Regions from separate parts of the Homo sapiens genome. Here regions 2, 3 and 4 are each reported to be linked to region 1. The links are microRNA targets in miRTarBase. Many come from high-throughput screens and were not tested one by one. Region 1 holds a microRNA gene; each other region holds the end of a gene's coding sequence.
Evidence for each region. Region 1 holds the annotated microRNA hsa-miR-6133 (UGAGGGAGGAGGUUGGGUA, at 1,472-1,490, shown strand). A microRNA usually pairs through its seed, bases 2 to 8, with sites in the 3' UTR of a target mRNA and lowers its output. Matches are read on the target gene's strand: a 7mer-m8 pairs with bases 2 to 8, a 7mer-A1 pairs with bases 2 to 7 and ends in A, and an 8mer does both.

Region 2: the mRNA of IKBKG is a reported target of hsa-miR-6133. Seed matches in the 3' UTR shown: 7mer-m8 at 608-614.
Region 3: miRTarBase lists IST1 as a target of hsa-miR-6133. Seed matches in the 3' UTR shown: 7mer-m8 at 2,724-2,730.
Region 4: miRTarBase lists HYOU1 as a target of hsa-miR-6133. Seed matches in the 3' UTR shown: 7mer-m8 at 6,829-6,835, 7mer-A1 at 6,437-6,443 and 7mer-m8 at 6,327-6,333.

The regions. Positions count from the first base shown.
Region 1 is chr7:133,289,480-133,292,479 of GRCh38, forward strand. It overlaps MIR6133 (microRNA 6133), which reads left to right and starts at 1,402; the gene lies at 1,402-1,509. The region is part of intron 3 of EXOC4 (exocyst complex component 4); the gene reads left to right.
Region 2 is chrX:154,564,132-154,571,177 of GRCh38, forward strand. IKBKG (inhibitor of nuclear factor kappa B kinase regulatory subunit gamma) reads left to right here. Exons shown (of 10, transcript NM_001099857.5): 10 at 188-902. The coding sequence ends at 330. Among named protein-coding and RNA genes, the nearest start is that of FAM223A, 3.6 kb to the right of the region's middle. RefSeq lists enhancers at 1-370, 371-870, 5,639-6,438.
Region 3 is chr16:71,927,660-71,930,659 of GRCh38, reverse strand. IST1 (IST1 factor associated with ESCRT-III) reads right to left here. Exons shown (of 10, transcript NM_001270975.2): 10 at 1-3,000. The coding sequence ends at 2,847. PKD1L3 (polycystin 1 like 3, transient receptor potential channel interacting) reads left to right here. Exons shown (of 30, transcript NM_181536.2): 29 at 477-608; 30 at 982-1,122. The coding sequence ends at 1,122. Among named protein-coding and RNA genes, the nearest start is that of IST1, 34 kb to the right of the region's middle.
Region 4 is chr11:119,038,259-119,045,956 of GRCh38, forward strand. It overlaps HYOU1 (hypoxia up-regulated 1), which reads right to left. Exons shown (of 26, transcript NM_006389.5): 25 at 7,523-7,573; 26 at 5,930-7,396. The coding sequence ends at 7,335. HYOU1-AS1 (HYOU1 antisense RNA 1) reads left to right here and starts at 5,930. Exons shown (of 2, transcript NR_186315.1): 1 at 5,930-6,487; 2 at 7,127-7,235.

The DNA of each region.
Region 1 (3,000 bases):
GTGTTCCACACATTTTTTGAAGGAATTTTTACATTAGGGCTTTGTTCTTTTCCTTGAAATTGATAAGAAATAAAATTTTGGGAGACTAATACTGGAAGCAACTTTATTGACCAAGAGTACTCCACAATCTAGCCTTTAGCCTCCATCTTAGTCCATTGTGTGTGCTCCTTTTTGAATTGCTGAAAGTTCCCAGAAGGATGCAATTGGTGGTTCATGTGGCTGAGCGTCAAGAAGATGAATAAAAAGTAGAAATACAGAGTTTGCTCCCTAATAATCCTCTTTCCCAAGGCCTGTGGCTCTTAGAGAGGGCTGCTCTTTCTCCCTTCCCTTTTACCCACCCAGTCCCACTTCCATCTCATTCAGAGTTGGTTAAGGAAGCTCTCTATAGGAGCTCTGAGCAGCAGATGGGCTGTATTTGAATTGTTGTTTTTTCCTTCCCCACAGTAGGTGAAAGTCCTTTACCTTTGTTTCACCAAATTAGATTGGCTTTAACACTGGAAAAAACACTGAGGGGAATTGGTAGGGACACAGATTAAATGCTCTAAGTGGTTCTAATTCATTCAGACTTCCAAGAAGAATTTTGCTAAAAGTCCTTCATAAGAAGCTTTTTAAAGGAAATTTGGTAACCAAGGAGTGAGAAGTGCCATGATATTCTATCAGATATTAAAACCTGGTTATGTGATAAGACTGAATGGTCAATTTCCACAGTGGAAGGAGATTAATAATGGTTGGCCCTTGGCTGGGAGTTTAAGGCTGCAGTGAGTCATGATCAGGTCACTGTACTCCAGCCTGGGCGATAGAGCAAGACTCTGTCTCAAAAAGAACCCCAATAAACAACAAAAAAAGATTGACTCTTGGGAATGACAAAAGAATTGGTTATTTTCAGCATCTTATTCAAAGTGGCAGCTTCTTTAATAATAATGACTATAGGGTGTCTGATAGAAAAAAATTACTTTTCACCTTTAGTGTTGATTTATGCATTATGAATGCATACTTGTCCTATATTCTCAAGATTCAGCAATCAGAATAGATAAGCAAGTATACATTTGTGTAGCAAATATACATCTATTTGAATCATGATTTTTTGGAGTGGGCTTGCTTTTAAGTAAGTGCCACAGATTAAAATAGGTTGTTAGAATTTATTTCTGTGTTAATTATGTTCATATTAGGATTTCAGATTTTTGTGTTACGGTCTTTGTTCTTAAGGGCTAATTTATTTACTTAAGGGCTAATCAATAATGAATACTGTCCCTTTTTTTCTGACATATTTTCCTCAAGACTCATTAAATAACTTCTTTAAATTCTTGGTTGTAAGTTACAGAAATTCAACTCTAGCTAGCTTAAGTAAAAATAATTGTTTGACTCATGTAACCAGTCTGCCAAAGGAATAGGCATGTATGTGGAATGTCACCTGTGTGTTTTCTCTGCATGCCCTCTTCATTGTTCTGCTGAAGACTGGTCTCTTCATGTGTGAGGGAGGAGGTTGGGTATTGAGGGAAAACAGGGGGCATAGGCTATGTCTACATCTTTCCACCTTTACAGAAGAAAATAATCTTTTTTTTTTTCATAATTCAGAAATCTAGGGTTAGGAGCTAGATTGAGCCAGGTTGGGTATGATAATCATCAATAAAACTATCTGGTTGGGGCAGGGGGCGTGGTATAGGGAGGAAGAACAGTCATGTCCAGAAAAGAGTGAGTTTGTAAGACACATTTTCCGGAGGTTTTGTTTCGTTTTCTGTTTGGTTGTTTATATATTCTAGATATTAATTCTTCTTGTCTGTTAGATATCTTCTCCCAATTGGGGATTTGTCTTTTTCCTTTGTTTATAGTGTCTTTGTTATAAAGAAATTAAAAATCGTAATGCAAAACAATTTCTCAATTTCTCAGTATTTTTTGTTATGTGATTTTTTTTTTTTTTTTTTGAGACAGGCTCACTCTGTTTTCCAGGCTGGAGTGCAGTGGTGTGATCTCAGCTCACCACAACCTTTGCCTCCTAGGTTCAAGTGAGTCTCCTGCCTCAGCCTCCCAAGTACCTGGGATTACAGGTGTGTGCCACCACACCTGGCTAATTTTTGCATTTTTAGTAGAGATGGGTTTTCACCATGTTGGGTCAGGCTGGTCTGGAATTCCTGACCTCAAGTGATCTGCCTGCCTTGGCCTCCCAAAGTGCTGGGATTACAGCCGTGAGCTACTCTGCCCGGCCTGTTATGTGATTTTTGATGCAAGAAAATTTTTTTTCCATCCCAGTGTTCTAAGAGAATCTCCTATGTTTTCTTCTTTAACCCGTCGAAAGTCCATTTTTATATATGGTATTAACTGAGGATCTAATTTTATCTTTCTTCTATATAGTCTGTTGGCTCAGGCTGTTTATTGAATCCTTTTTCTACTGATTCATGATGCTATTTTGGTCACACAGCAACTTATCACATATGCATGGATCTGTTTCTGAGCTCTTTATTTTGTTTTAATGGTGTTATTTGTACCTGCACCCAAACCATGCTGTTTTAACTCCTGTAACTTTATAATACATCTTGATAGGAGGTGAAGAGATTCTCTCATCTTGCTATTCAAAATTGTCTTTGTGGCCAGGCATGGTGGCCCACGCCTGTAATCCCAGCACTTTGGGAGGCTGAGGTGGGCAGATCACGTGAGGTCAGGAGATTGACACCATCCTGGCCAACATGGTGAAACTCCATCTCTACTAAAAATACAAAATTAGATGGGTGTGGTGGTGCATGCCTGTAATCCCAGCTAGCTCAGAGGCTGAGGCTGGAGAATCACTTGAACCTTCAATAGCTAATTGATTGAATTTAAGAGAATTATCTTTGCAATGTTGTGTTCTTATCTGTGAACCTAATATTCCTTTCATTTATTAAAATCTTCATTTGTGTCCTTTGATAATGCTTAGCAATATATATAGTCCTTAGAGGTATCATATGTATTTTGTTAGATTTATTTCTGGGTATTTCATTTTTTTGTTGTTGTCTTTTAAAACAGTAG
Region 2 (7,046 bases), not on the chromosome of region 1:
GGAGCTCGTGTAGGCCACCCCATCGGTAGCCCACCCCCTTCCCCGAGGCTAAGGGAGGCATGCCGTGGTAGCGGCGGCTCCTGGTCTTACATGAGTGGCCTGTGAGACCAGGCCTGCCATTGACAGTCCTGCCAAGTCTCCGTCCCCCTCCATCCTCCCCTTCCCTCTGACTCTTCTCTTTTCCCAGCCTACCTCTCCTCTCCCCTGGCCCTGCCCAGCCAGAGGAGGAGCCCCCCCGAGGAGCCACCTGACTTCTGCTGTCCCAAGTGCCAGTATCAGGCCCCTGATATGGACACCCTGCAGATACATGTCATGGAGTGCATTGAGTAGGGCCGGCCAGTGCAAGGCCACTGCCTGCCGAGGACGTGCCCGGGACCGTGCAGTCTGCGCTTTCCTCTCCCGCCTGCCTAGCCCAGGATGAAGGGCTGGGTGGCCACAACTGGGATGCCACCTGGAGCCCCACCCAGGAGCTGGCCGCGGCACCTTACGCTTCAGCTGTTGATCCGCTGGTCCCCTCTTTTGGGGTAGATGCGGCCCCGATCAGGCCTGACTCGCTGCTCTTTTTGTTCCCTTCTGTCTGCTCGAACCACTTGCCTCGGGCTAATCCCTCCCTCTTCCTCCACCCGGCACTGGGGAAGTCAAGAATGGGGCCTGGGGCTCTCAGGGAGAACTGCTTCCCCTGGCAGAGCTGGGTGGCCGCTCTTCCTCCCACCGGACACCGACCCGCCCGCCGCTGTGCCCTGGGAGTGCTGCCCTCTTACCATGCACACGGGTGCTCTCCTTTTGGGCTGCATGCTATTCCATTTTGCAGCCAGACCGATGTGTATTTAACCAGTCACTATTGATGGACATTTGGGTTGTTTCCCATCTTTTTGTTACCATAAATAATGGCATAGTAAAAATCCTTGTGCATTAGTCGTGCGTATCTTTGGCATAGATTCTGAGAAGTGACACCACTGAGCATGGGCGATGGCGTAGATGGTACCTGAGCCCCCTTCCTCCTTGGAGCTTGGTTTCCCATCTCTCCCCACCCCCTATTTCCCTAGCCTTGCCAAGGAGGAGGTGGGAAAGCCCGTTTGGGTTTTTGTCATTCGCTAGGCCATGCAGTTCTCTGTTAAGAGTGAGCTTAAACATCTTTCCTGAGGCTTTAAGGACCTTTTTTAGTTCTGCTTCTGAATGGGCTGCTCATATCATATATATATATGTATATGTATAGTTGTGTATATGTATGTGTGTGTGTGTGTGTGTGTGTGTATTTTTTTTTTTTTTTGAGACAGAGTTTTGCTCTTCTCGCCCAGACTGGAGTGCAGTGGCGTGATCTCAGCTCACTGCAACCTCTGCCTCCTGCGTTCAACCTATTCTCCTGCCTCAGCCTCCCTAGTAGCTGGGACTACAGGCGCCTGCCACCACGCTCGGCTAATTTTTGTATTTTTAGTAGAGATGGGGTTTCACCATGTTGGCCAGGCTGGTCTCGAACTCCTGACCTCACGTGATCCACCTGCCTTGGCCTCCCAAAGTGCTGGGATTACAGGTGTGAGCCACTGTACCTGGCCAATTTTTGTATTTTTAGTAGAGATGGGGGTTTCAGCACTTTGGCCAGGCTGGTCTCAAACTCCTGACCTCAGGTGATCTGCCTGCCTCGGCCTCCCAAAGTGCTAGGATTACAGGTGTGAGCCACTGCGCCCCGCTGGGCTGCTCATATCTTTTATCCGTTTTTCTACTGGGTTATCTTTTGTTGCTCAGCTTTTAGAAACTCTTTGTCCATGAGCAGGATTGGGTTTGTGGCTGTGATAGAAATTGCAGATATCTTTTCCTGCTTTGACCTCGCTACTAGTGTTTCTTTGTTTTTTGTTTTGAGATAAGGTCTCTGTCACCCGGGTGGGAGTGTAGTGGCACAATCAGAGCTCACTGCAGCCTTGACCTCCTGAGCTCCAGCAGTCCTCCTGCCTCGGCCTTGCGAGTAGCTGGGATCACAGGCGTGCGCCACCACACCCTGCTAAACTACTGGTGCTTCTCAGCCTCGAAGTTTTTTTTTCTTTATGTAGTCACATTTATCCATTTTTTCCCCCTTTTACTGCTTTGACTTTGGAGTCGTCGTGACCACCTTGTGGTCTGTGGGAGGGATGCTTCACACATGAGCACTTTTCTTTTTCTAACACCGAAGCGTGCTCTTGTCTTCACCAAGAGTGTTGTTGCCCAGTGTGACTGGTGATGGCTGTTTCATCATATTCCAGAAGTTTGTGATGCCATTTCCCACACTGGCCCCAATTAGGAAGAACAGACGACTCTACTTGTTTTGCAAGATTCTGGAAATTTCCCGGGGTGTCAGAGCCCTGGGCATTAACCCTGCAATTGTAGCAAAGGAAACAAAGTTGGAAGTTGACTCCCCAGCACCCGGGCCTTCCTTCCTGCCCTCCTCCAAGCTGCCCTGGTTGGGAACGGGATATTGTGAATCCACCCTGAGGCTTCCTCACAGGGCTTCCTGCTATTTGACAGTGTGAGGCTGGCTAGAATTGGGATATGAGGCCTTCTAAAAATTAACCTGGCCTGAGGGCTTTCTCAGCATCTGGGGGCGGGGTGTGGGGGCGGGGAGTGACCTTTCCCCTTCTTCAAGCCAGGTGCCCATCAGATTCTACTTGGGAAAATGTGAAAGGCACAGACAGCTTGTCTGCTCACGGGTGCTGCACTTAAATCCTAATCTTGCAATTTTTCTACAAGAGCACTTTACATTTTTTTTTTGGAGGGAGGGTGTATGAGTAGACGGTGGCTGCTGTAACAAAGGACTGCACACTTGGGGCTTAAAACAACAGAAACTCCTTCACAGTGTTGGAAGCCACAGTCTGCAATCAAGTTGTCAGCAAGGCTGGTTTCTTTTTTCTTTCTCTTTCTTTCTTTCTTTCTCTTTCTTTCTTTCTTTCTTTCTCTTTCTTTCTTTTTCTTTCTCTTTCTCTTTCTTTCTTTCTTTCTTTTTTCTTTCTTTTCTTTCTCCCTCTCTCTCTCCCTCTCTCTCTCCTCTCTCTCTTTCTCTCTTTCTTTCTTGTTGGATACAGTCTTGCTCTGACACCCAGGCTGGAGTGCAGTGGTGCCATCTCAGTTCACTGCAACTTCCGCCTCCAGGGTTCAAGCAATTCTTGTGCCTCAGCCTCCCGAGTATCTGGGATTACAAGTGCCCGCCACTATGTCCGGCAAGGCTGGTTTCCTCTGCAGGTGCCAAGAGAATCGTTTACAGGTCTCTGTCTTAGCCTCTGCTGGTTGCTTATAGAGCCATCACCCTAGTCTCTGCCTCTGTCATCACACAGTCTCTTCCTCTTCGTCTGTGTCTTCCCTTTTGTCTCATAAAGGACACCAGTCATTGGATGTAGGGCCCACCTGGATAATCCAGAATGATCTCCTCATCTCGGCATTCATTACATCTGCAAAGACCCTTTTCCCAAAGAAGGTCACACCCATAAGATATGCACGTATCTCTTCAGGGCCATCACACAACCCAGTATGGGGACATGTTCCAGTGCACACAGATGAGGGCAAATGCAGCAGCAGTGCCTGGGAGCTGGAAAAACACCCCTGCTTGGGCCCCCTGGACCAACCGAGTCAGAATCTTGGTCTAGACCCACCAGGCATTGGTCTAGACCCACCGCCCTGCCCGGAGGTGGGGCTGCCTCCTCCCTCCTCCGGTAGCACAGTGTAGGGTTGACCATACACCAGACACCAAGGATTTAAAACCATACCATTTGCGCAGAAGTACGGCATTCCAGGGTTTTCCTTTTCGGCTTTACTTAGGTTGAGCTTCCAGAACAACTGGTTGGATTACTCTTGGGAGGGAACCAGCCTGCCTGCCCTATTGGCTGCGGCCCCTTGATCCACAAACGAAGCCCATCCCTGCCGGAGCTTGTGGCGTTCTCTGGTGTTCATGCGCGCTCCCCCTCCTGCCGACCAATGCACAAGAACAGTGCGGGCGACCAGTAAGCACAGTGAGAAAGCATTTCACCCTCATCAGTAACTAAAACAACAGCAAGTCTGACGGCAAGCAAAAAGTGATCTGAAAATGGCAACCGATGAAGCCCTAGGTGAGCGCTCTGCTGGCAAGGTGCAGGACAGCGGCCCTTGCAATGCTGCCCTTTCCGAGGGGGCCATTTGCTGGGATGGAGCAAGCCCGTAGGCAGCGTCCTCAGCCCTGGTGCGTAACCCTAAGAGAGAGTCGGGCACTCAGCGATGACTCTGGCATTGGGAAGGTGCTTCACTTCGTCATTTGTAGCTGCCAAAGGTCGGGGTGAGATAAGAGGCTGCGTATGTAACGATGTGGTCCGGCACAGCTGGCATTTTGAACATCTCCTCACACGCAACATGCCTTGTAGCATGTTGGTGTGAACAGGCCAGGTGACAAACTTATGGATAAAGCGTGACCCCAATAGAGAAGTAAAAGCTCTGAGTGCATACCCTGCTAACATTTGGACGGACGTGAGTAGCTGGGTGGCCAGTAATGAGAAGTTTTCCTTACATGTTAGTACCTTTCCTAAATGCCTATCATTTGCACGCATTCCTTTGATACACAGAGAATACGTCTTCCCACACAGTCGCTCGGGTGGTAACGCAGCTTGGTTTTCTTCTGTGCCAGTGGCAGGGAAGAGCCCGCTGTTGACACAGCCTCTCAGCAAGGCACGGGGCAGGGGCTGACTGTGTCTCCTGGGGCTGCCGTGACCAAGCACCACAGACTGCGGGGCCGAAGCCACAGAAACGCGTGGCCTCCCGCTTCTGGAGGCCTGGAGGCTGAGCTAGCGGTGGTGTCGGCAGGGTGGGCTCCCCGCCAGGGCCGCGAGGGAGCTGCCTTCCAGGCCTCTCCACGGCGCCGGGGGCCGCCGGCTGCACCTCTCCAGCCTCCATCTCCGTCATCCTGTGGCCTTGTCCCCGCGGGCCTCTGTGCCTGTCCTCCTCTTTTGACAAGAACACCGGAGATACACAAAGGTACACAAAAGCGGGCCTTTGTTCAAGCTGGCAAAAGAGATCTTCTTCAGAAACCCCTGCTTGCGGGGGAGAGAGCTGAGCTCCGTTCCCGCCCCAGCAGAGGCGGCCTGGCCTTGCGAAGGGAGAAGGAGGGAGTCGGGAGGGGGCGAGTGCAGGCTCAGGTGAAAGATGACGGGGCAGCCAGCGTCCTTGCCGCGAGGCCAGCCGTGTGTGGGAGCTGCCGGTGCTTACCAAGGTTGGGATGCTTCCGTCCCGTGGAGACTGGGAGACTGGGCCCCGCGCCTCCTGAGGTTTCCGTTTCCAAGGAGTGGCTGCGGGGCCCTCGGGAAAGCCCCTGGGTTGTGGGTGCTACACAGATGTCTCAAAGGGACAGGGTAAGCCCTTTGTAGTAAATGCTGTCAGAAAGGGAGGTCAGGTGTTGGCCGGAACAGACAGTACATGCTCTGGGCAGCCCTGAGCGTTTCCAGACGGGAACTCACTCAAAAGGGGGCTGGGGCGTCCCAGGGGCGCGGCCTTAGGCTCCCAGAGGCCCCGCGAGGTGGTGGCCGGGTGTCTTCGGGCAGGGGTTTGAGTGCAGTGTGCCTGCCGAGAGGTTCTGCAGTTCCGAGCACCATCATTTTCTCCTCCTCAGACCCCTTGGTTCTCCTTCCACGTCCTGGCAGCTGCTTCGCAGGCTCCTTGCTGGTTCCTGTGTCTCCGAGCTGACTCCCGAATTCTCTTCCTCTCCTTGCTCAGACACTGCCCCTTTGTGACCTCGTCCATCTTCAAGGCCTTGATGCTGATGACAGATTTCTGTCTTCCAGTCCTGATCTGTTCCTTCACGAAAATGAGCCCAGTAGCCCGTCCAAGCCAGAAATGGACTTTTAGCCCCCACCCCCTGCCAACTCTGCCCTTTCCCTCATCCCCAGTTGCTTAAACCAAAACGGATTCCTCTTCCTCTCATGATCCAAACTCCTGAGTCCCTTCACCTTTTGCCTACACTATCACAGTGACCTCCTTGCTGCTTTCACACTGGAGAGCGTGGGCTCCCTGTGATCTACTCTCCACATGGCAGCCAGTGTCATCTGGTAAACCTTTGCTGAAACCCTGCCATGCCCTTCAGTTGCCCTGGAAACCTGAACTCATCCTCAGCCTGGCTCGCAGAGCCCTCATGCCGCTGGGACGTCACGTTATGTCCCTCTCCTGCTGGCCCGCTGCACCCAGCCGCACCACATGCCGGCCGCACCTCACACACGCTGGCCTCTTGGCCCTTCCTCGAACACACGGCGCTTGTCCTTGTTGTCCCCTCATCTTTGCATGGCCGATTTCTTTTTCTCATTCAGCTCTAAGTTTAAACTTTCAACAGTTCTAAGCGTATCACCTTCTTCATCTTAAAGTCCTCATCCTAAATCACACTGCACTGTTTTAACTCCCAGCTTGGCAGTCCAAACGGCCTCATTTATTCTGCTTTGTTTTCTCTCTCCTTCCACCAGAGGGAGAGCAGAGGCCTCCTCCAGCTCAGTCAGGCACCATCCCCCGGAACAGCGGTCTCCAACCTTTTTGGCACCAGGGACCGGTTTTGTGGAAGACGAGTTTTCCACAGACGGGGATGGGGCGTGGGATGACGGTTCGGGGATGAAACTCTTCCACTTCAGATCATCAGGCATTAGTCAGATGCTCCTAAGGAGCACACAACCTAGATCCCTCGCACACACAGTTCACAATAGGGTTTGCGCTCCTGTGAGAGTCTGAGGCCGCTGGCTGATCTGACAGGAGGCAGAGCTCAGGCGGTCATGCGAGCAATGGGGAGCAGCTGTACACACAGATGAAGCTTCGCTCGCGTGCCCACCACTCGCCGCCTGCTCTGTGGCTCAGTTCTTAACAGGCCACAGACCAGTATCGGTCCGTGGCCGGGGGGTTGGGGACCCCTGCCCTAGAACGATGCTCGGCACAGCTACACTCGGTGCACATTTCTTGGTGGCCTGAGCTTGTCTTGAGCTCCATCAGGATTTCTCTGTCAATATTTTTGTAGACCATACCCTGTCACCATAAATGGTGCTTGGTAGAAATGACTGTATGCATGTGATAGGGATAACACAGAAAAC
Region 3 (3,000 bases), not on the chromosome of region 1:
AAAAAATACTAAAAAGCCAGTTTTCTGTGGCCAACCTGTTAACTTTTATTGGAATGCTCCTGTGTTTAGGGTTGTAGTTTCTTGATATGGCAGAGACAGTGTGCATTCTCATTTCTGGTATGCATTTAATCTTTCAGTGTTTGCTTACCCCCCTCCCACTTTTAGCTTCCATGATTAGATGTATTTTTTGCCAAAACTCATGTGACATTTGAATCATTTCCAATTCCACTGCAACTCACCTGTTTTCTTGTGAAAGCCCTGCAGTCACAATTATCTTAACCTCCTTAAAATGAGTCATTCCTGCTCTTCTGTCCATTTAAAAGTATTTTCCTTCTTATTATCTTTTGACTCTCTCCCTAAGTTTCCTTCGGATAAGCTTTTCTTCTGATAAGATCCCAAACACTAGCATATAGCTTATGTTTGTAAAGTATAAACTAAATTGTCAGTCACTGCAAGTGTTCTTATTGTTTTCCCAGGTTTTCGCTTTAGACCCAGTCCTGGGCACCTTTCTGATCCTCACCAGTGTCATCTTGATGGTACTTGTGGTAATTAATCTTTTCGTTTCGGCCATTCTCATGGCCTTTGGAAAAGAAAGAAAGTCGCTTAAGGTAGGTAACTAAAAGATAAACTAGCATGCTGTTATATCACTGGGAAAGCTCCACTGTAACTGCCCCTAAGATGACGGGCTGACATAATTTATAATGCACAGTATCATATTCCCTTTATTAGTTTCAAAAGCTCTGCCAGCTATCTTCCTAGGAAACCCAATTTATAAGACTACATAATATTCTATAGCCATTGTCCTATAAATAGTTGGCTCGCAACCATTAGTGGAAACACTCCAATGCCTGACTGCAAATTATTAAAGAAATAGTATCTTTACATTTACTAATTTTTTAAAAATCTTTGGTACTTTTTTTACTCCACTATTAGCAGTAATTTCAATTTTCTCACTTTTCTCTTTTTGTCTTCAATACTCAGAAAGAAGCTGCACTAATAGATACACTGCTACAGAAGCTCTCAAATTTGTTAGGAATCAGTTGGCCCCAAAAAACCTCATCTGAGCAAGCAGCCACGACAGCAGTGGGCAGTGACACTGAAGTTTTAGATGAACTACCTTAATCCTGTTATCTCCTACTTGGCTTAGTATTTATTAGCGTATTACTACTTATCTTTGCATGGCATAGCTTTAAAATTATAATATACTTTGTTTTTAATTCTGTAAGTTAGGAATCAAAATCCCCTTGGTCCCAAGTTCTTATGGATCTTGGCACTGTCAAGATAGGATTAACAATGCAAGAATACTACGAGACAAACTAGCTCTGCTGCCAAGCAGCAAGTAACAGAACTCACCACCCATGGCCCAGGATGGCTGCGGGAAATGAAGCAGTCAGAAGTGAGCTCACTGCAACTTACTAAAAATAAACATCCAAGGATGAGGCATGGCAGATGCGGAGCCCTGCCACTGAGGAAGACCAAGGAAATTCACAGATGCTATCTGGGCTATCTAAATACAGAGATCAAAATGAGCTCTGTACTGCTCCAGGAATCCTGAAACTAAGGGCTGGTTTACATGGATCACTTGGTTAAAATATTCTCCACTAAAATCCAGATTTATACTTCATCATCTGACCAAACAGTAGAGAAAGCAGGACACAGGATCTTTAACTTTATTAGCAGCTACTGAGCTACAGAATACAAACCAACTGAAAACATTAAAGAAAGGCTGCCTGAAACAAGTATGTACAGGTATACTACACAGAAGCAAAAGCTGTATCATCCAATCCCAAAGCCACCCCTGTGGGGAAGGATGACCTTAGCTATGGGCCAAAGGAGTAACAGAAGTTATGACATAAGAGTCCCATCCATCCAGGAAAGCAGTGAACAACTACAGCTGCATGGGCACCAAAAATTTTTCTGAGATTAGTTTTAAAGGTTCCATGAATCAAAGTTTTCAAATGAAAACAGGTACCCCTCTTTTCCTGTAGGCTTTCCAGCTCACTACCCAAAAGACTTGAGTACTTCTATTAAGGCAGCTGGAAGCCCACCCTAGGACTTGAATGGCACCTTGTCCTTTCTCTGCCAGTAATGCAATCCAACACAATATGCTACAGGGAAAACAGAATTTCCACGGTGCCGCCCTCTGGTACAAGGGAAACAGCACGCAAAGCAAAAGGCCACAGAGGGCTCCCTGAGAATCCAGTACAACTAAGCGAGGCCTTCAACTGTCAAGACAAACTTTGCAACTGGATCCCGGTGGGACAGTGCCCTGCAGCGAGGAGTACTGTATATGCCAATGAGAGGGCCCAGCTTCCAGGAACCGTTACAATGGCGTCCCGAGTCATTTTCCCTCTCCCACTTGCATTCGAGAGTGAGAAAACACACAAGGTGGCCTTGATTCTCACTCACCACAATCCCCCTGTACAGAGGGGTCTGTTTCTAAGTCTGGAACCTCAACACGAGGCTGGGATGCTTCACAACGTGCTCTCTCCCACTGTCCAGCCATCTTTGGTGGTCTTCCCACAGTGCTTCCCCCATCCTCTCACACTCCTGTGGAGGGACCATGGGACGGGCCAGGAGGAAACCTGGGATCACTCTGACAGGAAACGGACAAGCACAGCTGCCAGGAGCCAGTTGCTCTGGCCTCAGTCTCCAATTGTTAGTCTCAGGATCAACAGAGAACTGGAAAGCAGCAGAATCTGGAGGAGCAGGAAGAGAGCCCAGAGGGAGTGTTGTGCTGAGTGACGGTTAACAGATGAAACAGAATTTCATGGAGATTCTTTGTTACAAGGAGAAATTGCTCAGTCTCAACTCCCAAAACGTGAAAGTTGCCTGGTTTAAGAGACCTATGTTTTCTTTTTCAGCTCTTCAAACCTCCGGGAAAGATCATCAAAGTCAATGTCTTCAGATGCTGAGGTGCTGGCACCAGCAGATGCAGTTGGTAGTGTGTCTGGCACAGATGGCAACTCTGGTAGGACAAAGTTGTCATAGTTATCTGCA
Region 4 (7,698 bases), not on the chromosome of region 1:
TAGGTCTTAATCATTAAAGAGTAACCACCAGAATAATCCCAGCTGCCATGCTTGGCTAATTTTTTATTTTTATTTTTTGTAGAGATGGGGGTCTCACTATTGTTGCCCAGACTGGTCTCGAGCTCTTGGGCTCAAGTAATCCTCTCGCCTCAGCCTCCCATAGTGCTGGGATTACAGGCGTGAGCAACCACGCCCAGCCATGTGAGAGTTTTAATTCCTCTACAGCCTCATCAACACTAGTTTTCTTTTTTTTTCTTTTTTCTTTTCATTTATTTATTTATTTATTTATTTATTTATTTATTTATTTATTTTGAGACAGAGTCTGGCTCTGTTGCCAGGCTGGAGTGCAGTGGCGAGATCTTGGCTCACTGCAACCTCCTCCTCCTGGGTTCAAGTGATTCTCTTGCCTCAGCCTCCCATGTAGCTGGGATTACAGGCGTGTGCCACCACACCCGGCTAATTTTTGTATTTTTAGTAGAGATGGGGTTTCACCATATTGGCCAGACTGGTCTTGAACTCCTGACCTCAGGTAATCCGCCCGCCTCGGCCTCCCAAAGTGTTGGGATTACAGGTGTGAGCTACTGCGCCCAGCCAATTTGTGTATTTTTAGTAGAGACAGAGTTTTGCCATGTTGGCCAGGCTGGTCTCAAACTCCTGGCCTCAAGTGATCCACCCACTTTGGCCTCCGAAAGTGCTGGGATTACAGATGTGAACCACTGCCCCCGGCCTACAGAGAGCAGTTTTATTAATCAAATGCTAACAGTTGAGATATGGCCAGACTCATGCCTTTAAAAGACTGTTCCAGCTTTTTGGGCTCAGTGAAGAGATTTCATAAGAAAAACTTGGCATGGGAAACATATGGGAGTGGTACAGGAGGGTATCTATGTGTCTTGTTCCGATAGCTCTCTTGAGTAATTTCTTGTCTGGAAGCCCAGTTGGCATCATCTTGACTTCTACCTGGTGGTTTTGGATTAATTGGTCGTGACTCCCCCTAAACAGGAGGATTCGGTAGCTGAAGGGGTGGGTTGCTCCTCCACACCTGTGGGTGTTCCTTGTTAGGTGGAACGAGAGACTTGGAAAAGAAAGAGACACAGACAAAGTACAGAGAAAGAAATCGGGGGACCAGGGGACCGGCGCTCAGCATATGGAGGATCCCGCCGGCCTCTGAGTTCCCTTAGTATTTATTGATCATTATTGGGTGTTTCTCGGAGAGGGGGATGTGGCAGGATCATAAGATAATAGTGGAGAGAAGGTCAGCAGGTAAACACGTGAACAAAGTTCTCTGCATCATAAACAAGGTAAAGAATTAAGTGCTGTGCTTTAGATATGTATACACATAAACATCTCAATGCCTTACAGAGCAGTATTGCTGCCCGCATGTCCCACCTGCAGCCCTAAGGCAGTTTCCCCCTATCTCAGTAGATGGAATATACAATCGGGTTTTACATCGAGACATTCCATTGCCCAGGGACGAGCAGGAGACAGATGCCTTCCTCTTGTCTCAACTGCAACGAGGCGTTCCTTCCTCTTTTACTAATCCTCCTCAGCACAGACCCTTTACGGGTGTCGGGCTGGGGGACGGTCAGGTCTTTCCCTTCCCACGAGGCCATATCTCAGGCTATCACATGGGGAGAAACCTTGGACAGTACCTGGCTTTCCTAGGCAGGGGTCCCTGCGGCCTTCCGCAGTGTTTTGTGTCCCTGGGTACTTGAGATTCCTTCAAGCATTTGTTTAGCAAAGCACATCTTGCACAGCCCTTAATCCATTTAACCCTGAGTTGACACAGCACATGTCTCAGGGAGCACAGGGTTGGGGGTGGGGTTACAGATTAAAATGGAGTCTCTTATGTCTACTTTCTATACAGACACATTACCAATCTGATCTCTCTTTCTTTTCCCCACAGGTAGCTGGGTCTTTATTCCTGGCTTGTTTCAAAATTAGCCCCTGGCTGAACAGGATGGCTCATGCTTGTAATCCCAACACTGGGAGGCACAGGCAGGAGGATTTTTTTTTTTTTTTTGAGATGGAGTCTTGCTCTGTCACCCAGGCTGGAGTGCAGTGAGTGATCTCCGCTTGCTGCAAGCTCCGCCTCCCGAGTTCATGCCATTCTCCTGCCTCACCTTCCCAAGTAGCTGGGACTACAGGCACCTGCCACCATGCCCGGCTAATTTTTTTGTATTTTTAGTAGAGATGGGGTTTCACCGTGTTAGACAGGATGGTCTCGATCTCCTGACCTGGTGATCTGCCTGCCTCGGCCTCCCAAAGTGCTAGGATTTCAGGCATGAGCCACTGCGCCCAGCCCCACTACGCCCAGCTATTTTTTGTATTTTTAGTAGAAATGGGGTTTTGCCATGTTGGCCAGGCTGGTCTTGACCTGAGGTATCCTGACTGGGATTACAGGCGTGAGCCACTGGGCCTGGCTATTTGTTTTTTTTGAGAGAAGTCTTGCTCTTATCCCCCAGGTTTGAGTGCAATGGCTTGATCTCCACTCACTGCAACCTCTGCCTCCCAGGTTCAAATGATTCTCCTGCCTCTGCTTCCCAAATAGCTGGGATTAAATCGCCTGCCACCAAGCCCGGCTAATTTTTGTATTTTTTAGTAGAGACTGGGTTTCACCATGTTGGCCAGGCTGGTCTCGAACTGCTGACTTCAGGTGATCCGCCCGCCTCGGCCTCCCAAAGTGCTGGGATTACAGGTGTGAGCCACTGCGCCCGGCCGGGCCTGGCTATTTTTTATTTTTATTTTTGAGGCAGAGTCTCGCTCTGTTGCCCAGGCTGGAGTGCAGTGGCATGACCTCAGCTCACTGCAACTTCTGCCTCCTGGGTTCAAGTAATTCTCAAGCCTCAGCCTCCTAAGTAGCTGGGACTACGGGCACACACCACCACACCCGGCTAATTTTTTGTATTTTAGTAGACATGGTGTTTCGCCATGTTGCCCAGGGTGGTCTCAAACTTCAGAGCTCAGGCAATCCACTCACCTCGGCTTCCCAAAGTGCTAGGATTACAGATGTGAGCCACCATCCCTGGCCAAAATAAATATTTTAAAAATATTTGGTAGAATTCACCAGTGAAGCCATCTAGTCCCGATTTTTTTTTTTTTTTTTTTTTTTTTTTGAGACGGAGTCTTGCTCTGTTGCCAGGTTGGAGTGCCGTGGCCCAGTCTTGGCGCACTGCAACCTCTGTCTCCTGGGTTCAAGTGATTCTCCTTCCTCGGCCTCCTGAGTAGCTGGGATTACAGGTGCCCACCACCACGCCAAGCTAATTTTTGTATTTTTAGTACAGACAGGGTTTCACTGTGTTAGCCAGGCTAGTCTCAAACTTCTGACCTTGTGATCTGCCTGCCTCAGCCTCCCAAGGTGCTGGGATTACTAGCCCGAGCCACCGTGCCTGCCCCCCACCTCCCCACCCTTTTTTTTTTTGAGACAGAGTTTCGCTCTTGTCGCCCAGGCTGGTCTCAAACTGTTGACTTCAGGTGATCCGCCTGCCTCGGCCGCCCAAAGTGTTGGGATTACAGGCTTGAGGCAAGGCGCGCCGGGCCTTTTTTTTTTTTTTTTGAGTCGGGGTCTCTCCCTCCCAGGCTGCAGTGCAGTGGTGCGATCATAATCTACTGCAGCTTTGAACTCCTAGTTTCAAGTGATCCTCCTGCCTCTGCCTCCTGAGTAGCTAGGACTACTATTTTTTGTAGAGATGAGGTCTGGCTATGTTGTCTCAAACTCCTGGCCTCAAGCGATCCTTCCACTCCTGCCTCCCCAAACACTGGTATTACAGCCATGAGTCACTGCACTTAGCTTCGCCTTTTTTTTTTAGAGCACTTTTAGGTTCACAGCAAAATTGAGGGGAAAATACAGAGTTCCCGTATATTCCCTTCCTCCATACACTCACAGCTTCCCCCATAATAAACACTTCACACCAGAGGTCTACAGGTGTTACATCTGAGGAACCTACACTGACTCATCATATTTGCCCAAAGTCTACACTTTCAGTTGTCTTGGTGTTGCACATTCTATAGGTTTTGACAAATGTATATGTACCCACCATTATGGTGTCATACAGAACTTTGGGTGATTGTAACAAATGTACCACTCTGGGGGAGATTGAGTATGTGGGGACAGGAGGTATATGGCAACTCTGTACCTCCTGCTCAATTCTGCTGTGAATCTGAAACTGTCTAAAAGTCATCCAAAAAAAAAAAAACAAAAACCCAAAACTTCCACATTCAAAACTTATCTGACTTGTTCAACTTTTAGAGAAAAAAGACAACCCTTCGTGGTTATTTTTTTTGTGTGTGACAGAGTCTAGCTGTCGCCCAGGCTGGAGTGCAGTGGCACGATCTCAGCTCACTGCAACCTCATCCTCCCGGGTTCAATTGATTTTCCTGTCTCAGCCTCCTGAGTAGCTGGGACTACAGGCGGGTGCCACCATGTCCGGCTGATTTTTTGTATTTTTAGTAGAGACGGAGTTTCACTGTGTTAGCCAGGATGGTCTCGGATCTCCTGACCTCATGATCCGCCTGCCTTGGCCTCCCAAAGTGCTAGGACTACAGGCGTGAGCTACTACACCCGGCTGGGCCTTCATGGTTATTAAATGTAAATACAACGGGGCCAAGCTCAGTGGCTCATACCTGTAATCCCAGCACTTTGGGAGGCCAAGGCAAGCAGATCATTTGAGTCCAGGAGTTCAAGACCAGCCTGAGCAACATAGTGAAACCCCGTCTCGACCAGAAAATACAAAAATTAGCCAGGTAGTCCCTGCTACAGGGCTGAGGTGGGAGGATTGCTTGAGCCTGGGAGGTCGCGGCTGCAGTGGGCCAAGATGGCACCATTGCACTCCAGCCTGGGTGACAGAGCAACACCCTGTATACCGTATACAACTGCTTAGATATGTACATGATTAGTGACAAGAGGGATCCTCCCTTGGTAATAGAAAATTTGGGCTAGGCATGCTGCATCCCAAACTGATGAACCGAAACTGCTACAAATGGTCTCTACCAACACATTCCCACGGCTAAGTACGAAGAACAAGGGCGAATGGTCAGAATTAAGCTCAAACCTAGCTGAAGCACTCAACATTGATTCATTCCTTGGACCAATTACTTGCTAAATCTCTATGAACTGGTATCTTATTTGTACAATGAGGTTGCTATTTTAAAAATTAATGTTACCAGCTGGGCCCAGTGGCTCAGGCCTGTAAACCCAGCACTTTGGGAGCCCAAGGCAGGTGGATCGCTTCAGGTCAGTTCCAGACCAGCTTAGCCAACATGGTGAAACCCCGTCTCTACTAAAATACAAAAAAAATTTAGCTGGGTATGGTGGCAGGTGCCTGTAATCCCAGCTACTCAGGAGGCTGGGGCAGTAGAATCACTTGAACCCGGGAGGCGGAGGTTGCAGTGAGCCTGGATCGCATTACTATACTCCAGCCTGGGCAACAGAGCAGGACCCAGTCTCAAAGAAAAAAAAAAAAAAAAAGTACGTTACTTAAAAATGCCTGGGATATAGGAGTCCAAATAATGTTAGCAGTAAAATAAAACCAGTATTTTGTTTCCTTGAAAAAAATACATATACAAATCTCAACTAAGTCCAAAGTGTCAATAACATTTTGATGATGTAATTATTCAAACTTTTTGAGGTTTTCACTGTCACACATGCTGGAGTGCAGTGGCACGATCATAGCTCACTGAAGCCTCGAAGTCCTGGGCCCAAGGGACCCACCCTCCAGCCTCAGTCTCCCAAGTAGCTGGGTCTACAGGCACACATCCCCACACTCAGATACTTTTTTTTTTTTTTTTTGAGACAGAGTCTTGCTGTTGCCCAGGCTGGTCCGACCTCAAGCTATCCTCCCATCTTGGCCTCCCAAAATGTTAAGATGACAGGTATGAGCCACCATGCCTGGCCCAAAATTTTTCTATTTTTAAAAACTCACAGCACAAAAACTGTAGAAAAGAATATTTTATTGAAACAGTTTCTCAATTAACAATGGAGCAAAGTACAATTTGACTCAAACCTGTCCAACCAGCATCAACAGCTACTGAAAGAATTCAAACATACAGAAGAGGTGGGGGTGGGGTGAGGGGTGGGACCCTTAGGTCCCATCTCTGCCAATGTGGCAAAAAAAAAAAAAAAAGGAAAAGACAAAATGACTGACACAGCCAGGTTCATTCTTGTCTTGGAGCTGAGGCAGCAGCCCTAGCTCCTGCTACAGACGGAATACTGGAGGACGGGCTCCCTAGGCGTAGGTATGGTGGGTCGGGGGCCCCCAACCTAGCAGAGTGATGCACAGAGGAAGGCCAGCCCTGACCCTCCTCCTTCATCCACAGGCCTGCCTCAGAGAGAGGGAGGTGGCATCTCTACATTCACACCATGGTCTCTCCTTTCCCCAGGATCTTGGGATAGGGACTCACAGTAGAAAGCACATTTTGGTCAGCCCAGGGGGTCAGGGGGTGAGGGAAAGGCTCTGTCTGGGAGGAGCAGAACAGCAGAAGAGAGGAGGAGGCAGGGAGTTACAGGAACCTGGGGTACCAGGCTGCTGGGAAGATGCAGATTATGACAGAGCTTGCACGATGCTGGCACCCCATGCCAACCACTCTACGTGGCTTTCCTCTTCGGAGAGGTGGTGGGCTCCCTTCTTCACTGTGCCCCTCCCTCCTCTGGCCACTAGGGGTGGGAAATACGAGTGAGAATCCTTCCAGATTTACTTCCGCCAATCCAGAGGTACAGGCTTTTAGGCAAGGGGCAGAGAACTGCCCAATTTGCTGCAGGAAGCCAAGGAAACCCAGGGGGAAAGGAGCTGGATGGGAATGGGGAAGGGAGGCTCAGAGCAAGAGAAGCCCGCAGAGGGAGGAAAGAGCACAGATAGGCACTCAGAAACCAAACCTGGTAACTGAGGCTCTGCAGACACTGGCCTGAAAGGATGCTCATCGCATGGTGGGAGAGGAAGGGAGGGAAGGAACAATCACCAGAGAAGAGTGGAAACTCCCCAGCAACCTGATACCCTTCCCATCACCGGGACCCATCAGCCACTGGCAGCCATTCTCTTCCTACCCACAGGCAAAGGATTCAGAAATTAATAGTGATTTTTCCCAAATTTAGGGCCTATATGGGTAGGGAACAGGGAGTGGGGCTGGGGAGGAGAACAGTTTCCATTTTTAACCACAGAGGTACTGCAGAAGGAACCAGTGAGCTGTCCCTCCCTTCCCCTTCTCCACACCTCCAAATCACAGGGGTGAGAAAGGAACTCCAGCCGAGGGCAGGACCAACCCCTCCCCCAACCCTCGATGTTAAATAAATAGAAGTGGTGGGGGAAGGGGGTGGAGATGAATGGGGAAAACAGAGGTGGGGGTTATAGTTCGTCGTTCTTCAAAGGCCGCTTCTGTCCTGTCGATTGTTCTTTCTGTTCAGGTTCTGTTGGGAGTTTGGGGGAGCAAAGGAATCACCGCAGGTGAAACAGAGGAACCAACCCCAGTTCTTTGCAAAGGATTTCCTGAGACCCCACCAGGCTTCCCACCGTAGCCCCGGCTCCATCCTCACCTGCTCCAGGACCTCCTAACTCCAAAGGCTCAGTGTCTCCTGGCTCGGATCCTGCTTTGGGAAGAAACAGGTTAGTCTCCTCAGAAGGGAGGAAGAGGCTAAGGGAAGGCTGGGCCAGTTTTTCCATGAAGAGCCAGCTAGTAAATATTTTAGGATGCATGTACCACATTTGGTCT